Linked DNA regions of Homo sapiens. The protein of the gene in region 4 purifies or fractionates together with the protein of the main gene of each other region. This does not show direct contact. Each region holds a gene or a part of one and is shown on either strand. Other genes may lie near its edges.

The links.
Region 1: the proteins of SLC26A2 (region 4) and POPDC2 purify together in Homo sapiens (co-immunoprecipitation; one large-scale study listed by IntAct). This does not show direct contact.
Region 2: the proteins of SLC26A2 (region 4) and ACKR3 purify together in Homo sapiens (co-immunoprecipitation; one large-scale study listed by IntAct). This does not show direct contact.
Region 3: the proteins of SLC26A2 (region 4) and CYB5A purify together in Homo sapiens (affinity purification with mass spectrometry; one large-scale study listed by BioGRID and IntAct). This does not show direct contact.
Region 5: the proteins of SLC26A2 (region 4) and TMEM63C fractionate together in Homo sapiens (co-fractionation; one large-scale study listed by BioGRID). This does not show direct contact.

Annotation. Positions count from the first base shown.
Region 1 is NC_000003.12:119,657,433-119,662,028, reverse strand, and holds the start of POPDC2 (popeye domain-containing protein 2), read left to right. Parts: upstream 1-1,439; 5' UTR 1,440-1,605; coding exon 1,606-2,096; intron 2,097-4,596. UniProt on the Homo sapiens protein: Important for the maintenance of cardiac function.
Region 2 is NC_000002.12:236,576,108-236,579,981, reverse strand, and holds part of ACKR3 (atypical chemokine receptor 3), read right to left. Parts: intron 976-3,874; exon of another isoform or gene 914-975; intron 1-913. UniProt on the Homo sapiens protein: Atypical chemokine receptor that controls chemokine levels and localization via high-affinity chemokine binding that is uncoupled from classic ligand-driven signal transduction cascades, resulting instead in chemokine sequestration, degradation, or transcytosis.
Region 3 is NC_000018.10:74,281,919-74,285,792, forward strand, and holds part of CYB5A (cytochrome b5), read right to left. Parts: intron 1-3,874.
Region 4 is NC_000005.10:149,981,258-149,985,131, reverse strand, and holds part of SLC26A2 (sulfate transporter), read right to left. Parts: coding exon 3,319-3,874; 3' UTR 1-3,318. UniProt on the Homo sapiens protein: Sulfate transporter which mediates sulfate uptake into chondrocytes in order to maintain adequate sulfation of proteoglycans which is needed for cartilage development.
Region 5 is NC_000014.9:77,247,772-77,251,645, reverse strand, and holds part of TMEM63C (osmosensitive cation channel TMEM63C), read right to left. Parts: intron 3,300-3,874; coding exon 3,137-3,299; intron 2,880-3,136; coding exon 2,774-2,879; intron 2,356-2,773; coding exon 2,188-2,355; intron 1-2,187.

The DNA.
Region 1 (4,596 bases), on a different chromosome or scaffold from region 4:
GACTACAGGTGCCCGCCACCACGCCCAGCTAATTTTTATACTTTTAGTAGAGACAGGGTTTCCACCATGTTGGCCAGGCTGGTCTCGAACTCCAGCCTCACTCAGGTGATCCACCCGCCTCAGCCTCCCAAAGTGCTGCGATTATAGGCGTAAGCCACTGTGCCCAACTAACATTTCTTAGCCTAATGTTTGCATACTCCAGCTTTATCTCTTGGCAGCCCAAAGTAGATTCCTAGGTTCAACCAGAAGTTCCTTGAAAATTGTCAGACTTCATAGAAGTGTGGAGTTGGGAGTCATGGATCTAGTACTGTACTTCCACTTACTGGCAAACCCCTTGGGACAGAGTATTAAGTTTGACAGACTTGGGTTCAAATCCTGGCTCTGCCACTTAGACCATCTGTGGGAGCTTGTTACCTCTCTGAGCCTCAGTTTCTTCCAGATCTAGAAGGAGAATAATATTTATTTTGAAGGATTGTTGTCACAACTAACTTATAAGTGTATAAAATGCCTAATCTAGGTTTGGCACTTCATGGGTGTTTAATAGGTGGGAATTATAATTTGGAAGCACCGGAGTGGGTGGGATGATGATCTGGGCAATGTATTATTATTTGTTTACTATTACCAGATCCAGATATATGCAGGGGAAAGCCAGCTTAGAATTCAAAAAGCCACTTTACATAGCTACTTTTGTTAAATGGATGTCAAATAAATACATAATGATATTTGCAGTGTGACTTAATAAAGGCCTTCAGGGGGTTTTCCAGCTTTCACTGTTAGGATTTTTTCTGATAATAGTCCCATACTTTCCTACTCTGATGTGTCCTCACTCAGAAGCACTGTCTGGCTCTCCCCAAAGGGAGCTCGGGACAGTTTCCTGCCTGAGGTGTTCAGGTGAATTCTGTGCTCACTTTTCCTTTCTCTCTCCTTGTCTGTCTCTCTGACCCTGAGGTCTTATCTTGTCCTCTGGGAGGTATGTTAAGTGCTCTGCCAGGCTGCCTGTGCCTGGCCTGTTTTTTCTCACTGCCAGTACCTCTTGGATTCCAATTCCAAACATGGTATCCATCTGGGGTCACCCTTTCTTCCGGTGCCAAGAGAGAACACATTCCAAATGGAACACAAATGTGCCTCCCATGCTGGCTCTCCTCATTCTGCTTGGGAAAAACAGAGAGCAGGATGTGGCCGCATCATCCCACGCTGCTGGACTTTTCAGTCCTGTAGTGCTACTTTCCCTTGGGACTATTTAGGTTTTTCTGCTAAGAACCAAATTTGAAGACTCCCAAGAAACATGGAACCAAGGAAGCTTGCCAGAGCTCTGCAGGGAGAGCCAGAGCCTTGCTGAGACAGCGGGGGTGGTGGGGAGGAGAGAGGGGGGGAGAGGGGGAGAGAGAGAGAGAGAGAGAAAGAGGTTTTTAAATTCTCCATGAAGTGTACTATGTTCCATCATTCCTTCCCAAAGCCACCGGAAGCATTCCTTCTAGGAAAGGTGGAGTCGGTAGTGAGAAGCCGGAGGTGAGAAGACCCCTGAGCGGATGGATTCATTCATTTTCTGAATTTCCTATGTGAGGACAGTATTAGAGCCCAGTGAGGCTTTGAGAGGCCCCAAAGATGAGCGCCAACAGCAGCAGAGTGGGCCAGCTTCTCTTGCAGGGTTCAGCGTGCATTAGGTGGAAGCAGGATGTGGAAGGGGCTGTCTACCACCTAGCCAACTGCCTCTTACTCCTGGGCTTCATGGGGGGCAGTGGGGTGTATGGATGCTTCTATCTTTTTGGCTTCCTGAGTGCAGGTTACCTGTGCTGCGTGCTGTGGGGCTGGTTCAGTGCCTGTGGCCTGGACATTGTTCTTTGGAGCTTCCTGCTGGCTGTGGTCTGCCTGCTCCAGCTGGCACACCTGGTATACCGCCTGCGTGAGGACACCCTCCCTGAGGAGTTTGACCTCCTCTACAAGACGCTGTGCCTGCCCTTGCAGGTGCCCCTACAGACATACAAGGAGATTGTTCACTGCTGCGAGGAGCAGGTCTTAACTCTGGCCACTGAACAGACCTATGCTGTGGAGGGTGAGACACCCATCAACCGCCTGTCCCTGCTGCTCTCTGGCCGGTAAGCTACTCTATCCATTGCCCAGAATTTCTTTCCCCAGCCCACACTTCTCATTTCCTAGTGTGTCCCTTTCCATTTCATGTCCCTTTCCATTTCGTGTCCCCTTCCATTGAGGGAAGGATGTGACAAGTCAAACAAACCAAAATAGATTTTTCTAAGAGTGGGGTTGCTTCCTCTTTCTTGGCATTTTCCAAGAAGAAACCAGTTCATGAGGCATCTTGGTTGGCAAGAATGATTGTATGTGCACTTGCTGCTGGAAGGTGTGCAGTGCGTGTGTCTTGAGCCTGGGCCTTAAATAACCCCTCTACCATCACCACACACATATCAGTGTGTCATGCCTAAGCTGCAGCAATATCTCTGTAAGCTTTGAAAAACTAACATTTCAATAAGGTTAATCTGTTCCTTACTCAAATTCAACATTTGCTAAGCACCAACTGTATTCAGGGAACAATGCCAGAAATGGGAGGTCGGGATAGCGGGGTGGTTCTCATAACCCCTGTTCCCTGCCAAGGCATCAAGCAAACAGCCCCACTTGTGTTTGGGGTAGCTGTATGTAGCCAGGTAGGGAGAGTGAATACCCCTTGCCCACCTTTCCATTTCCAGTTGTTCTATTGAGGTTCTTGAAGACTAAGAAGTCAAGTACAGTACTGTAAATCTGAGGGCCCAACAATGGGAGAAGAGAAGTGATACACCTATCTCATCAAGGCTTTTGTGGAAGCACCGCCTCTTTTGGAGAAGGCTGACAGTCAGATATGGGCAGAAATGGTCTTAGTCAGGATCAGTGTATGCCCAGTCAACCTGGATGTGAATGTTGGGCATTGATTTCTTCTGAGAAAACATCACGGGGCTCTGTGCTACACACTTAGTAGGCAATTGTGGATTTTTTTATACTGCCCTAGTGGCTCTTGAGCCCCACAACCCCCACTCCACCAGCTTTCTTGAGACCAGGAGAATGTGATAGAAAAGGTAAGATGGCAATTAGAAGGCTCCAATTCCAAGAAAAAAAAAAAAAAAAAGCAAATCCAGATAATACTGCCAACCACACAATGGAGAAAAAAGTTTGACAATGATGCTAATGGTACTACAACTACCACTAATAGTAATAATACGTGTTTGTGTATTCATTTATAGAACCTGAAGTATCATGTATATATGTTTTGATTTTGTTTGAACTCAGAGGTCCTGGATAGAGTGAGCTAGGAGGGGAGACATTTTGTGAGGGTACATTTCATTTCATTTATTGGTGAACTGAAAGTGTAAACCAATGCGATTATTTGTAAACAGATATAGATGTAAATACAAATACATATAACTATTGTGAAAATGTTTGCACCTATAGTTCCATGCTTAAAGACAATTTAGGGAACTTGCTCATTCATGAGACCCATGATGTTATAGCTCGTCTGTTCAAAGGAGGAAATTGAGAGCAGCAGAAGTGCTCCCTCCAGTGTAGGGTGCCCATTTGCTGGAAGCATGTATGGTTACTGTATAGTTCAGTTAGGATAGATTTACTGTGAACTTGTATAAGATCACTTCCCAGTGAAGGGGAGAGGGGGGCTTGCCCTTGGTGTAGCTTTTCCTGGTATACTTAGCATCAAAAGGCTGAGTCAGAAATTAGACAATTTTGATTTTTTTTTTTCCTGCCTTTCAAGGTTTGGAGTAAGAGTTTTGTTATCTTTCAGTGTCACCCTGTCTCAGCTTTGCTGAGCTGGACATAGAGGAAAAGGCTTCTAGTCTATGACTGGGCTCTAGTTTTAAAGGAGAATCACTGAACCTTGGGCTGGTTACAGTAAGGGACCAAACATCTCAAAGCAGCAGACAAGAACTTTGTGCCAGGAAGTGGGGACTCTTGTGCAGACTTCCACATCTCACATGCACACTGTTCTCTAGAGTCCTTCACTCAAACCTCAGAAGTCTTTTTGTTTTGTTTTAATAAAGGAAACCAATCTCTTTCAAAACTCAGAGAGGGAAAGTGACTTTCTCAAAGTCTATCACCCTGTTAAGCAGCGCTTAACTTAGACGTTTCTCTCATATAAAATTCAAAACACAAACTTCCATATATACAACCCCCTGAGCAGGCAACTAACTATCTAAGCTATTCATTTAGGAGAAGATCATCCATCTTCCAGTAGATCAAGAAGGAAGAAGAAACAGATGATAAAGGGCACAGCATTCCGATTTAAATGGCTTCAGCGAGCCACGAAGATCATTAGACATTATCTACACTCTACGGTTGTCACTCTTTGGTGGCTTGCCTGGGTGGCCGAAATCCTCGCCTAAGGAGCTGACATATGCTGCAGCAGCGCCATTCTCTTCTGCTGTCTTCCTTTGCTATGGAAGCTTTTCAGTGAGGTTTTGATCCCCTTTTATGGTGACACAAGTGAGTTTGTTCCTTGGTTTCCTTTGTTCATTTATTCATCCTTACTTTCTTGCTTCCTTCTTTCCTTCTTTTCCCCCTTCCATACATATTTATTCAGAGTCTTGAATAAAGCTCCTGTCT
Region 2 (3,874 bases), on a different chromosome or scaffold from region 4:
ATTACAAGTGTCCTGCTTTGGTGTCTTAATGAAAGCATTTCAAATCCTCCTCCAAATTTGCATTTATAATGTGACTCAGCACTTTTTACTTGTCTGCTAAATTCACATATAAACCTGGGTCTCAGGCGGCCCCAGTGTGCAGTCATAAAGCCTCTGGAAACACAGTGAGCCTACGCAGGGTGCCCCACAGCTTAACTGCGCCCCAAACCTGAAGACTCTGGGTTGGCCGTGTGGTTTTCAACGAAGGGCAACCAACCAGCTGTCTCAAGCTTTGGGTCAGCACCTGTTTTTCCATTCCTTTATTTGTTCAACTGCTTCAACAGCAAGGTGTGCCAAGACTCAAAACACAAAAATCACCACCTGCTGCATTTCAGGAGGGCTGACCATTTTCCCAACTGTTTTCCCTGCTGACCTGAGGTGAGACCAACACTCCATCACCATTTCACTCCCAGCCAGAATTCAGCCACGGGGTACCATTGTTATCTGGCACTGATTTCTTCAGATAGACTGACAGGGGCTGTCTTCTACTGTCAGTCCGCCCATGGGAAGGCCCTGAAATCCCTCCAGGCCACAGTCCTGGGTCAGCAATTAGCCCTGCCTGAACCCCACTGTAAAATGAAAACCTCAGCCCAAGGATGCACTGTTGACAGTGACATAGTCAGGTGGTTGCCCTTCCCCCTCACCTGTCCCAGGTAATGACTGGCCTAGAGTCAAGACATTATTTACCGAGTTCATTTAAAGTGGATTCCAGGTTACATATGAGAATTTCCTGGAGGATCAAGGACAAGGGTCAGGGGATCAGGGTCCGGGTGGCTACGCTAGCGGTATGCAAAGCCACAGCTGGGAAGCCGCCCACTCCGAGATCAGACATTCCTGGGTTGGGATTCTGGCTCCTCTATTCATTAGCATTTACCTTGAGAGTTAATCTGTCTGCATCTACCTCCCCAGGACAGCAGCACCTATCTCACAGATACCCTAAGAAGAAAGAAGAAAGGGCCTAATTGAGAGCTTGGCCCTAGCCGATGCTCAATAAAACGTCACCCCCTTCTCCCTCCCTGGCCAGGAAGAAAGAACCCTGGGGATTCTCCCACCTAAGGGAGCGGTTTTTCCCTTCAGCAAAAAGCAGAACCTTGTTTAATTCTATTCCCCTGGAAACCTGGCTCTCACTGGCTGAGTAGTAAATGCCCCCGGGGGAGCTCGCACAGAGACTGGGTTGTTTGATGGGCTTCTCCTTTGGGACAACTTGAACAGAATCCCTGAAAAGTGAGAAATTTCGCGGCCTCGGCTCCACAGCCTCCACATTCACAGCAGAGGACCTGGCGTGAACCCCACTTAGCGGAGACTGTTGCGGGCTTCTGGGCACTTCCCTCTGCGGGATGTAAATGACTGTGGGGTCCCCTCCTCGTGACCTAACCTGACTCAGTGTCCTCCACGGCTGACAGAAAGGGCTGGGCCTCCCAAGACAGCCGCATCCCCTCCACACTCTGAAAGCCTTCCATGGAGGGAACCACGCTGGTCCTGCAGCGGGAGGCCTGGCCGTCCTCAGAGTCACCCACTAGGAGGAATCAAGCCCTGTGACCACGGACTTATGACAAGCCCTGATGCCCAAGCATGGGAGGCTGCCCATGGAGGTGAGCCAGGTCAAGGTCAGGACAGAAACTCAAAGCAGGAGGCTTGGCACACTTGTCCTAAGACGCAGCTCTAGAACTCCAAAAGGACGTAGGCCCAGCAGGGAGCTGAGGACACCCTGTCCTGCCAGACTGCCTCCAGGGTGGACGGGCAACCCCAGGCCGTGCCTTGAAGCTACTATCGCCATCTTTCCTTGGCCACCAAATGACCCAGAGCTGACGTTCCACTCTCCACCCCGTGATGCCAGGAGACAAGGATTTCACCTTTGCTCTCCCCACATGGCTCTACTGCAACAATCCTTGTTCCTTTCTCCCATTTCCTTAAAACGAAACACATTTGCATCATGGCTTGGTTTCCAAAACACTTTCCCCCATGATCTCATCTGACCCCAGAGTCCCGGGGAGCAGAGGAGCTTGAATGGAGGACCGCCCCACAGCTGGGCAGCAGCAGGGACAGCAGCTGGGTCCAGAGGGAGCTCGGCTGGCGCCTGGCTTGGGCTCCCTGCTCTGTCCCCACTGGCACAGCCACACAGCAGAAGCTGCCATAAATCCTGGGGTTTGGGCCATTCACAGGGGCTAGAAAGAAATGACCCTCAGTCTTTGTTCGCCCGAACTTGGATCCCGAATCCGCCCCACCTCTCTCCCCCACCATGGTGACATTCCTCTGGCTCAGGTCTTACTTGCCCTCCAGTGTAGAGACATGTCAGATGCCGGCTGGCCAGGCGCCTGGCCACTGCTCAGCATGGACAGGCCCCAGCAGGAGGCAGGGTCACTCAGTGAGAAGACGCCTGGTTCCCACATCTCGAGTGTGTCCTTCCTTCCAGTTCCTCCACTCTTAGCACAAAATAGACACTCACCCGCTTTGAGCTACCAGCAGCCTTCAGTATTCTCAGAGCCCAGAGTGGGACTGAGAGGTGGAAAAGGGCTCAGGGACCCCCATCCAGCCCTTGGCTTTCTACCTTTGCCTCTTTGGGTGACGAAAATTTGATTTAGGGACCATTGGTCCTCTGAGTCAAAAACAGTATTTCTGAGATAGGCACTTCCCCGCTCAGCCGTCCTCGCCTCTGTCCTTGCTTCTCCCCTCCCGGGTGGCACAGTGGGAAACTTCCAACAAGGGCATGGCTGTTGCTGCCCAAGGGCTGAATGAGAGAGCGGAGGCTGGAGCTCCTCACTGCCCCACCGATCACCGGCCACCTATCATCACTCACCGATCACCGATCCTCAATCATTAACCACCAGTCAGCCCAAGGAACAGCAGCCCACACTGGGGCTGGCCAGGAAACAAAGCCAGAGGCCCACACCCTGACCACCTGCTTTCCTCTCGGGGCCTGGACGGGCCTCTCCCTTCCCACCACCAAAGGTTCCAGGGGTCAGATAGGAAGGAAAGTACAGTGAAAAGGGAGATTAAGCAGACAGTGCAGTCATCAAGTCCTCTGCAAATTCAAATGGGAGCTAAAGAAAACAAAAAACAGAAAAACAAAAATGTCATACTATAGCTTACCCTTTTGTCATTTCGGTATTTTTCATGCATTAGGTTTCAGAAACAAGAGCTGTCTCCAGCAAACAGATTATTATTTGACAAAGACAATCCCCTTATTCAAAATAGGGAACTGCCGTGTAACATGGAAGGTGGCCTGCGACAAAGGCTCTGGCCGCCCCAGCCTGCGTGCAGGACGTTTAGGGTGGGCAGGGCCCACTTTCATTGACCACCATTCACTGATGGTTGTGCGTCCACTATTGGAGCAAAGAATCTTCCTAAATTACCTGCTTAGATCTTAATAAGTGACACTCTCAGAATCCCTGATAGGAACAAAAGCTTCATAGAGCAAACTATGAAATGTGTACCCAGGGCCCCTGGTTCTCAAAAGCCTGGTGACAAAGCTCCCTGCAAAATCTGAAAGTGGAGAGAGGGAGGGAGGCCTCTAATGAACCCCCAGCGGGCCCTGCACAGAAATCACAGGTCCCCTCAAGCAAAAGCAGGGGATTACCTCATCCCATACAGAAAGAGCTGACTGCATTCCGCACAGATCTGGATGGGCCAGCCCTCGGGTCCTTGTATACATTCTTAATGCCTCTCAGCCTGTGCGGGGTCTGTTTACGCTGGGAAGTTGGGAAGGCCGATAGCCACAGGGCCTGAAGGAGACATCCACTTAGACCAGTCACCCTCTGCTGGAATCAACCAGCAATTCCATTCCCGCTTGAGGCCAGGGTCTAAGAAACATGTCTGGGTGTGAATCAAACCTGCC
Region 3 (3,874 bases), on a different chromosome or scaffold from region 4:
TATACTGGGGAACATCGGGTGGCTTAGGGAATGTCTGTGAGTGGGAAGGGGAACAGGATCTCAGGCACAGGTGGAGGCCCGGGCTCTGGGCAGGAAGAGACTGGAAAATGCAGACCAAAGTGCTCCCCTCACCTTTAATTCTCCTCTTCCCTTCTACTGACTGCCTGGGAGCCTCCCTCGATGCCATTCTTGTGTTCCATGCTCTGAGACTATGTCACAATCCAGACTTTCACAATACAGTCCCACTAGTTTCTAACTGTGCAATCCTCAGGGACAAAATCCCAGGCCAAGGCCTACAGAGTAAGAAGAGATCACACTAGCATGTGCCGTGTGTGGAAAAAGGGGGTAAAATAAGATAGTCACAGAGCAGGGACTTGTGTCTGTTTCTCCACCAGGCTCTCCTCTTCCATCCTGGGAAGTTACTTTCTGGCACCGGACAAGGGCCACAGAGTAAGAAGGGATCACACTAGTATGCACTGTGTATGGAAAAAGGGGGAAAAAAATAAGATAGTCACAGAGCAGGGGCTCGTATCTGTTCCTCCACCAGGCTCTCCTCTTCCATCCCCGGAAGAGTGACTTCCTGGCACCGGACATGGGCCAGGTGCACAGCAGGCGGGCAGGCAGGAGCCCTCATCGCGTGGAAAAAGCAGCATATCACAGCCGGGAGGGTCTAACTGCTAGCAGAGGCACAAAACGGGATGGGACACCATGCTGAGACCTGAACAGGGCCAAGCCTGACACAGGGGAAACCAGGGCAAAGGTTTCAAGGTAAAAACAAGTTTGGCTTGTTTGAGAAACAAAGAGAAAGGGTCAATGTGATCAGGTGTGGGCATTAGCAGGGAGGACACAGTGTTATTTGCTGAGGTGGGGGAGGTAGGTAAGGACCAGATCATTCAGAGCTTTCCAAACCAGGGCAAAGAGATACAATTTTATTCTAAATGCAACAGGAAGCCATTGAAAGGAACTGAACAGAAAAAGGACAATCTGTTTCCAAAAGATCAAGTTTTTTTTGTGTGCTTCTCCTAGAAATCACACTTTTCAATGCCATAAATAGCATTTATTACTCAAGCTGAAAACTCATAAAACCACCACCCATTTGATGGAACCAATGAAATCCTGAGAACTGACTGCCCAGTGGCCACCATGAGAGGTGGCAAAGATACAAGAGAGGCCACACCAGGGCATCTGCTCTCAGCTTGGAGGAGAAAGATATTCTAACCACCCTGCAACCAACCTCGTGGCACATGCAGAGGGGATATGGACCCGGAAGGGGAGGGCGAGAGATGAGCGGGACCCACTGAGGGATTTATCAGAGCAGGAACCTCCTCGGATTTCCATTTAAACAATCCTTCCCAGGGCAGTCATTTAAGATGCCTTTCACCAAACAACACATGCCTCCTCACACATACCCACTACACGTGCAAACAATCTCTTTCCGAACCAAAACCACACCGATGATTCAGCCCCTGCCAGGTGAGAGCAGCATCTGGGTCACAAACAAACTGAGGCCGTGAAGACTCCACCCCGACTCCCTCTATTTAAAAATTCCTCTACAAGAAACAGGAATGGCTGTTTCCTTCACCTCCTAGAAGGCAACATAGTAAACTGACAACAGATGGAAAGAAAGGCATATTTTTGTCCATTAACTTTCCAAGGGTTTTGGCTTTGTTCAGATATTTGCATCACAAATTCCCTTTGCTTTCTCCCTGGTTCCTCCAGAGAACTCTCCAGTGATCAAGGTCTCCAGCAAATGACAGCAACTCTGTATCAGTGGGATGCACTTTTGCTTTTAAAGCTACGCTAGGTTCTCATCAATACTCCTTGGATCTCAAGCCTCAGCAACAGACTCAGCACTGAAGACACTGGGTCGCAGCGCCCGCAGCCTGGACTGAAGCCCTGGCTTTGCTCCTTATCGTCTGTGGGACTTGCTGAGCAAGCTGCAAAATCTCCCTAAGACATACCGTCTTACCTTTAAAAGGGAGGACACAATCACCACTGACCCCATAGGGTTGTTTTGAAGATTAAAAGCACAGGCCGGGCGCAGTGGCTCACACCTGTAATCTTAGCACTTTGGGAGGCCGAGGCGAGTGGATCACTTGAGGTCAGGGGTTTGAGACCAACCTGACCAACATGGTGAAACCTCATCTCTAATGAAAATACAAAATTAGTCAGCCTGGTGGTGCATGCCTGTAATCCCAGCTACTTGGGAGGCTGAGGCAAGAGAATCGCTTGAACTTGGGAGGTGGAAGGTTGCAGTGAGCCGAGATTGCACCATTGCACTCCAGCCTGGGCAACAACAGTGAAACTCCATCTCCAAAAAAAAAAAAAAAAAAAAGAGAGATTAAAAGCACAAACGCAAAGAAGGTTTTATGTGCAAAAAGCACTTGGCACACTCCCTAGCACATACTGAATGTCCATAAACATTCAGCCAACGTCCACTGCTATCACTTTTCTTATTAGCTCACTAGGGATTGTTGGGGAGGGGAGGATTAAAGAATAGCATTTACTTGGGGACGATTAATGAATGGCATTTACTTAATTAACACTTTCTGAGGAAGACGAGGGAAAGAAGTCTGGATATATTTTGTGACCTGGCTAATTCTGGACACAGCTGCACAAAGCTTAATGAATAGGTCTGCCAAGAACAAACAATAGCAGGCAGTGAAAGAAACAAGCTGCAAACTGACACTCCCCAGGCCCTCAACTACAGAAGAGTTCAAGTGATTCCATTTCAGACAGGCTCCCGTGCCCACCAGCCAGGCAGAGAGGACCCTTAACTGAGCCTAGAGGCTGTTAATCACCCCATCCCTTCCCTTAGGTCCACATCCCTTATCCCTCGCCCCCTCCAGAGCCTCCCCAGCGTCAGTGCTGGTTCAGATGCCATCATTTTGGCATGGGCCTGCTAGAGACAGAATTCTACGGATGTAAGAAAGTAACTTCTTGCCATCATCCACAGAGCCGTCAGCTCTAAGCCAACAGGCAGCACAGGCCAGATTCTATTCAACAGCAAGAACGGAGCTGTCCCCACCCAATCTTCAGCTCACCCTCCCGGTCCCCATGTTGGAACTCAGTAAAAGGCACAGATACCCAGTTACTATATACACTCAAGACTATGTTCCCAAGAAAACTAGGTCCAAGGGTAATAGGAAAGGAAGCACACTTGATTAAAATGTTCTGTTTTTCAGAATTAAGGGCAATGAATTTCAACACCCATACTCTGTTCCTCTATCCCCAAGCCTTGGAAAGCACTGGTCTATGCAATGTAGGCAGCCATGTTCAAAGGAAAATAACAAAGAGCAAGTCCCTACAACAAAACCTGCTAGAAAGGACACTCTTGAGACTCCAGAAATGGCTCTGAGCCTGCTACTCAGTTTCCCATGTAGTCAGCTGCTGCCTCCGGTCACTTTTCTGATGCTTTGAGCCTTCAGACAATGAAATTCTTTCATAGAATAGACAAGGTATTACTTGCCACAGCTTCACTTTTAAGAGAATTTATAAGCTAAAGGGGATAAAAAATTATTCCATACATTTCCCTTTTTAACAGAAGTACACAGCCAAATTCAGGAAGGGAGGTGAATGAGGCGCAACCAAGTTCCTCCACTCCTAAGAACCGAGAAATGCACACACTGGTGTGCCACCCCAGGGTGCTCTGGTAACATCCATCAAAATTTAGAGTGGCTCATGCCTGTAATCCCAGCACTCTGGGAGGCCAAAGGGGGCAGATCACTTGAGCCTAGGAGTTCGAGACCAGCCTGGGCAACAAGAGACTACATTTCTACAAAAAATACAAAAATTAGCTGGGCATGGTGGCTCATGCCTGTGGTCCCAGCTATTCCAGAGGGAGGACTGGTTGAGCCCAGGAGGTCAAGGCTGC
Region 4 (3,874 bases):
CTCTAGAAAGATACCTTGCTCTGGGAGGTATGGCTCCTAATCCTTGTCTCCCTATTATTGTGTAGAGGCTAACCAGGGATTGGATCCTATTCAACTGGGTTCCTCTCTTTTCTGCCTCCGCTGGTCAGATAATAGTCTTTTCAATGGTCTGTTCTCTTCACTCCTCTATAATGTTTTCCTTAGTCTACCTGTGCACTGGCACACTCCAACCCTTTGGCTGTAACAAACTTAAAAATAAATAAGGCTGTAAGAGTTCTAACCATCAAGAGTATACCACACTACGTTTCAATTAAATAACCATTTTATGATACTCAGAATCTTGTACTGAGAAAAAGCTTCATTTAGACTCTAAAGTTTAGAGTAAGCAAGATATTTTTGTATCAATATAGTGTTTAAAATAATGCTTAAAGAACTAAAGTCCTATCCTTTGGTCAAGAGAGCAAATGAAAACAGTTTTTTGTTTGTTTGTTTGAGACGGAGTCTCGCTCTGTCACCCAGGCTGGAGTCCAGTGGCACAATCTCTGCTTACTGCAACCTCCGCCTCCCGGGTTCAAGTAATTCTCCTGCCTCAGCCTCCTGAGTAGCTGGGACTACAGGCGCGTGCCACCATGCCCCGCTAATTTTTTGTATTTTTAGTAGAGACGGGGTTTCACAGTGTTAGCCAGGATGGTCTCGAACTCCTGACTTCAGGTGATCCACCCGCCTCGGCCTCCCAACGTGCTGGGATTACAGGCATGAGCCACTGCACCTGGCCGAAAACAGTTTTTTTATCGGCAAATTAGGCTTTGGTTCCAGGTTTCATTCCTCTGAATATCAGCAACCAAAACATTTTAACAATATGCAAGTATAGGCAACCTCAACCCAAGTAGAGAGGATGAAATGTAAATTCTAGTGACATCTTAAATGTTTCTACAGATGGCTACCAAAAGCAGAATCTCTTGTTTGGATGGATGGGACAAGTACAAACCAGAACATAATTCAAGGATTCGCTAACTGCATGCATAACGTTCCAGAACTGTTTACATCCACATATGGACAGAAATCGCTGGTAAAGGTCAAATCCTGTTATCCCTCCTTCTGAGGGATTTTCCAGAATCTTTGGCTGGAATTATATTTTTTGCTGTGTTGGTGTTGGCTAATTATAACATCTTAAGCATGTACTCATTACTCTGTCACAGGTTATTAGACACCTATAATAGTCTCAACTTAAGCCTGCCTTGGGAGAAGGGCAAGAGAGATTAAAAATAAATAACTTGGCCAAGTGCAGTGGCTCACGCCTGTAATCCCAACACTCTGGGAGGCTGAGGCTGAAGGATTGCTTGAGCCTGGAGTTTGAGACCAGCCTGGGCAACACAGTGAGACCCTCTCTCTAGAAAAAAATTTAAAAAATTAGCAGGGTGTGGTGATGCATACCTATGGTCTAGCTACTCAGGAGGCCAAAATGGAAGGATAACTTGAGCCCAGGAGTGGGAAGCTTCAGTAAGCTATCATCAAACTGCACTCTGGCCTGGATGACTGTCTCTTAAAAAAGAAAAAAGGAAAAAAATAAAGACTGACCAAGATACTGTGATTTTACTGCTATTATTCATAAGGCTGGATAGAAAGGGCAAATACTGGCTAAAAAACAAACAAGAACAAATACAAGCAGCAATTAACATTTCTGGAATTCCAGACCCAAGTTCTAAAAGGATGTCAAAATTCAGGAAGCCTACACTTGATTATAATCACCTATAAGACAGAAATCACCTATAAGACAGAAATCTAGACTTTCTACTGAGCAACTGCTTTGTTGTGATAATGGAAAGGTATTTTCCATGTCACCAAATGGGAGAGCTCTACCAACAGAAAAGCAACACTGGCAGCTTATGGAGCTAACAATAAAGCTAAGTTACATATATCTATATAGGATAATATAGATATAATAAAATATATATGCATTTTAAATATACATATTAAACATGTACATACTTAATATATGTCTAAAAGCATCCCACTCCAACAGATGCCCTACACATAGGGTTTGCTTCTCATAAATATTTAAAATTGTTTAGAAACTGGGAACAGATTGAAAAATGATTTTGTACTTTTGCAGTTTACTTTTTTTTTTTTTAAGATGGCTGTTTCATAAATTAGTTCCCTATTCCTAACTTTGGAGAACCTGGTTTTTTCTTACCTTTCAAGGTCCAAATATAAAACTATAAACTTTCAGTGTTGGACATTCTTGCTTTTTGAAAGCAAATTCCTCCTCAATTCATGACCTGTGGGCCAGCTATCATGAATAATACACCCATAGCACTTGGGTTTTATGAATGTGACTTCTAAATCCTCCTGCATAATAGCTTTAGGTGACTTGAAGAGTTAAAAGCTGTCATTGTCATCAATATTTACTGTACATCAAACTCATTTAAAATGCTGTTAGAAATTGCTGACTGGCAAGACTGTCACTGACAAAAACACCAGTTTAGGACAGATTCCATGGGAAACAAACTAGAATAACTGAAAGCTAAAATAGAGCTTAATGGTAGAGAAAGTCTCAGAAACAAGGACAGAGATCACAGAAAAGACAAGGAAGGACTCCTATTGTTTTTTCTGATTTTGAAGAGCTCTTTGTGCTTACCTATTTATCCTAAACAAAAAGGCATGAGTAAAAATTTCCAATGTATTACAAAGGGTATTCTGTCTAATGTCAGGCTGGCTCTCAGGATGTTATAAACCTGCCCAGGTATTAGACTTCTGATGAGACTGTGCCTTAAGGACAGGAATGGCACTTTCCTACTAAAAACTACTGCCATCTGGGGAGCAAAGACTGGGGATAGAAAACTACAAGAACAAACCTGTCTAGTTATGACTTTGTGATCCAGAAGCCTCTTGACCTATGGTACTAGAGCAGGTGCAACATTCTTTCCCTCTCTCCACTGAGCCACATAAAGAAGTCTACAGCACTTCCAATGTAAATCCCAACTTCACCGCTTCATCTCTTGGAGAATGCACAGTCCAAATGTATAACCCCTAAAACAGGAGAGTAATTAAGTTTTGGAGCTACTTTACAGTACAGTTCAATACATACTTATTGCATTCCAAGAATACTTCATATCTGCAAGAAAGCCTGAAACCGTATTTTCTTCTTTTTGACTCTGTCCAGCTACAAGCTCTGCTGCAGTGTGTATATACAAATGCCATTAGCTTCAAAGGAGGAATAATATCTAGCCACTTGGTTAAAATTTCAAGTGTGCAAAATTTCCCACTGTGGAACTGGGAAATGTTGGACACTTGAAATTTTAACCTATTGGCTAGACATTCTTCTATCTACCTTCTCAATTAATCACTACTAAGACTCAGACCATTGGGAACACATACTCCTTTCTGATTTTTAGATACTTCTGCAAAAGCCATCGCTTCATACACACTATAGAAGAGAAGGTTTTCTTCTTCCTTTTTGCAATATTCTCCGTTGGTTAGGGAATCCCTCACAGTGGGATTGCACTGAGCCAGCAGAACCTGGATTCCAATGGCTTCATAATCTCTGCGAACTTCTTTCAGTGTGTGGATCCCTGCTGTATCTAAAAATTGAATTGCACTGCAGTCAATCACTATAGTATGCAGCTCCAAGGGATCATGGGAAAGTTGCACTGACATTTCATCCTGGATTCCACCAAGAGTCACTACTTTTTCTTTGATCTTTCTCTTTGCTGCCTTCTTCCAAGCCACCTTTATTAAGATTGGGTTGACAGTTTGTTTGTATAAAGCAGATTTAAAGCATTCTTTGTTTATGTAGTAGAGAGGGGCTACAAAGCGGAAAATCTTGATGCCTGGCTTAATCTGAAGGTTCTTGTAAGCAGACACAGATTCAAAGACCTCAGACTCTTCCACCAAG
Region 5 (3,874 bases), on a different chromosome or scaffold from region 4:
GTCTGACAAAATAACATCATCCCTTTGCTCTGTTAGAATTTGGCATCTGTGGAGTCCATGAAAAAATGTTTTAATTGACTTCAGTACCCACTGCAGTGCCCATTAAATGTGTCCTTCCTGACCTGCTGGTCACCTCCAACACCATCGTCCCTGGGAAGTATCTTTGAGTGACTATTTCTGCCAGTGCCCCCAACGCCATCTCTGACCTACACCTTTCCCTGCAAGCCCTTTTGAAGTGAGCATGCTCAGTTATCTGCACCGATGGCACAGAGAGGGAATCTAGAAGGTAAAAGTCACCTACATTACATTTGGGAATATTTGATCCCTTTTTTACGGCAGCAGTTTTCTAACTAGGTAAATGTTGTTTAAATTATGCTTTACAGCCAAAAATCACTGCTTAATGATGCTTACTGCAGTGTTTTTATAGTAGCAAAAAGTGGCAAACCTCAATATCCAATCACGGAGAACTGACTAAAACTGGTAGACTTTCATGCAACCGCTGAAAGGCACCTACGTGTTCAGTCTTTTAACAACCTAGGAAATTGCTCAGAACATTGTGTTCAGTACAAAACCTCAGGGTACAGGACTGAATGTTACAATATGGACTATCGCAGTTTTGCAAAGTAACAATAGACCAACTGCTCCCTCTCAATGTTCCCATGCCCAAAGCCCCAAAGCGCATGCCTGGAAAGGGGGCTGGGAACAAAAGACATCAGGTTCTGGGTAAGATGATGGGTCATTTACATGTTGGTCTTTATATTTTTTCTATTTTTGATGATAAACATGCAGTCCTTTATTCTTAGAAAAAAAGCATTATGGAAAAAATGAAGTCTCTGGGGTGGCAGGGAAAGGCTAGCGGGATAAGCAATTGGGGGTGATGGCAAATGGGTAAGCCACATAAATGACTGAGAGTCGACCGTATGGATGCCACCATGGCAGGGAGAGAAAAGAAAACACTGCCTCGGATTGCCTGAGCTCAGGAGTTCGAGACCAGCCTGGGCAACATGGTGAAACCCTGTCTCTACTAAAATACAAAAAATTAGCGGGGCGTGGTGGCACCCGCCTGTAGTCCCAGCAACTCAGGGGGCTGAGGCAGGAGAATAGCTTTAACCCGGGAGGCGGAGGTTGCAGTGGGTCGAGATCAGGCCACTGCACTCCAGCCTGGGCGACAGAGCGAGACTCCGTCTCTAAAAACAAAAGAAAAAAAAAAAAAAAGAAAGAAAACACCGCGTCTCCCTTCTCCCACCACTGAGAAGGTTAAGGTCAGGTGTCTGAGGGAAGGGCAGTGGGGTTGGGGGTTGCTGGGGGTTAAGGTGCCTCCAACGGGGAGAAAGCTGAGAGATTTCTAATCTGTGGCCTGCAGGGACTGCTTCTGGGAGGGTGTCTCTGAGCTCCCCTGGGCAGGAGCAGTAGCTGTGTGTAGCTAAAGAGTGAGGAAAAAGCTGGCCCCTACTGCAGGCTCTGTTTCCTCTTCCAGGTTTTTTGGCAACCCATAAAGCCAGGCATCTACCACTAGGCACCGGCGGCTTACGCTTATAATCCCAGCACTTTGGGAGGCCTAGGCCAGGGGATCGCTTTAGCCCAGAAATTCCAGACCAGACTGGGCAACATAGTGAGACCTCATCTCTACAAAATTAAAAACAATTAGCCAGTCATGACAGCTCACGCCTGTAGTCCCAGCTACTGGGGAGGGGGAAGTGGCAGAATTGCTTGAGACCAGGAGGTCAAAGCTGTAGTGAGCCGTGATCGCGCCACTGTACTTCAGTCTAGACGACAGAGCAAGATTCTGATTCAAAAAATAAAATTAAAAAACAAAACAAAAAACCAGGCATCTTATGGGATCCCAGAGGAAATGTCATGGGAACTGAGCCTCCCAATAGCTGATACTCTATTTTCCACCCGTCTAGACTTAGAAAGAAGGAATATGAGGTTTCCTTCCCTGAGCGCTGGAAACCCAAATCCACACCTGGGGACCATGTTGGTCCAGGGCCTCCTCTTAGCCTTGAAGCTCAGCTGAGACTCTAATGTAGGCCCTTTAGGCCCAGAGAAGTCACTGGGTGTGGCCAGGTCTGGTGAGCAGCGTCTTGCCCTGCCTGGGCTTTTCTCCTCTAACAGGGTCAGTGTTAAGGGACTCACAGAACAGTGGGGCAGGTGGAGGTGGGGTCTCCAGGCTGGCTTGGTACCTACCCAACCGCAGGATGGAGAAGAACAGCATCCAGAACAGACCCAAGAGTGGCGCAAAGATGGCCTGGGAGACGGCAGCCATGTGGATCTGCTCGTTCAGTTTGGTGGGTGCAAAGGAGTAGTACATGTTATAGCGATCCGTCAAGTGCTTCATGCACAGGTAGAGCAACCCTGGGGGACAAAGGTGGAAACTTACTCAGTGGCCCCTTCAAGTCTGGACCTTTGTGGCTCCAGTGTCTCCACAGGCCTGAGAAGCCAGATCCACGGCTGTCAGAGTCACAACAACCAAGGATGGGTTGGGGGAGCTCCGTGGTACTGACCTCCGGAGCCAGCAGCTTCCCTTGAGCCCCGAGAACTGACTGTTTCAGCTTGGTGAAGAGTCATTCTCTCATGCGTTCATTCAACAAACATCCCCCATCGGCAGCCATCCAACCTCAGCTGCCCTGTACCCCCAGCTTGGCCCTGGCCCTGACCCCTCCCTACCACAGGTCTCCCCATGCTCCAGGAGGTGGACTGATGTTGTGAGGCTCAATTCCTCCTCCCCATCTGCGGATGTGCAGCCCTTGGGCATGCCTTGGAGATGACTCACCAAAAGGCACAATGATGGGGCAAGTGATGCTGTACGCCATCACCACGCTGAACACGTTCATCATCCACGCATACTCACGCCCAAACTGGAAGTCTATGGCCTGGTTCTGGGGCAGAAGGCAGGTGTCACCCTGAGGTGGCCCAGTCCCCTTGGCTTGACTACTTCTGTGGCTCCTCATCAGCCTCCTGGCAGCTCAGGCCTGGAGGCAGCCTCCTTTCCAACCCTGTAGACCAAGGTGCCCCACCAACACCCATCCACACCGTCCCTCCCACCTCAACCCCCTTGGTGCTTCTAGCAGGCTCTATCCCTGACACCCTCCCAAAGGAAACTGAGGGCTGTGCTCAGCGGAGAGCCAGTCTGTACCTTTCTGATGTTGACTCTCTCTGGCTCTGATCTAGAGAAGAAGAGGCGGGTGCTGTAGCAGAAGAGTGACCCCAGACGCAGCAGCTCCATGCCTGTGCCAAGTAAAGCTGCCGTGATCACGTAGTTGACAAAGAAGGCGCCGTTGTCTGGCAGGAACACACACCTGGGCAGTGAGGGAGAGGGAAGGTGGCAACAGAAGCCACAGGGAGAGGGAGAGATGTTAAAAGGGAGGAGAGAGAGGAGAGCAGCAGAGGGAATGGGAATCGGAGTGGAGATACAGATACAGACAAGGAGAATAACATTTCCTCTCTTTCTTTTTCTCTGTCTCTCTCCTATAATATATATGTCCCCAACCCAATGAAGTTAACAAGCAGTCCCCTGAGCAGGGAGGGGCAGGGACCACATAAAGCATGGGTGTGTTAGGGGATACATGCATTGGCTTGATCCAAAGCAAGGGTGTCTGAGCCAGGTCCAAAGACTCGGGAGAATCCATGAGTGGGTTTCTGGGGGGTCTGTAAACTAGGATGGGAAAAAATAACATCTTTATTTTCACTAATCTCTAACTGAAATTTAGCATTTTCTTGCATTAAGAATGTGGGCAATACGGCAGGGCATGGTGGCTCACACCTGTAGTCCCAGCACTTTGGGAGGCCGAGGTGAGCAGATCACCTGAGGTCAGGAGTTTGAGACCAGCCCAGCCAACATGGTGAAACCCCATCTCTACTAAAAAATACCTTG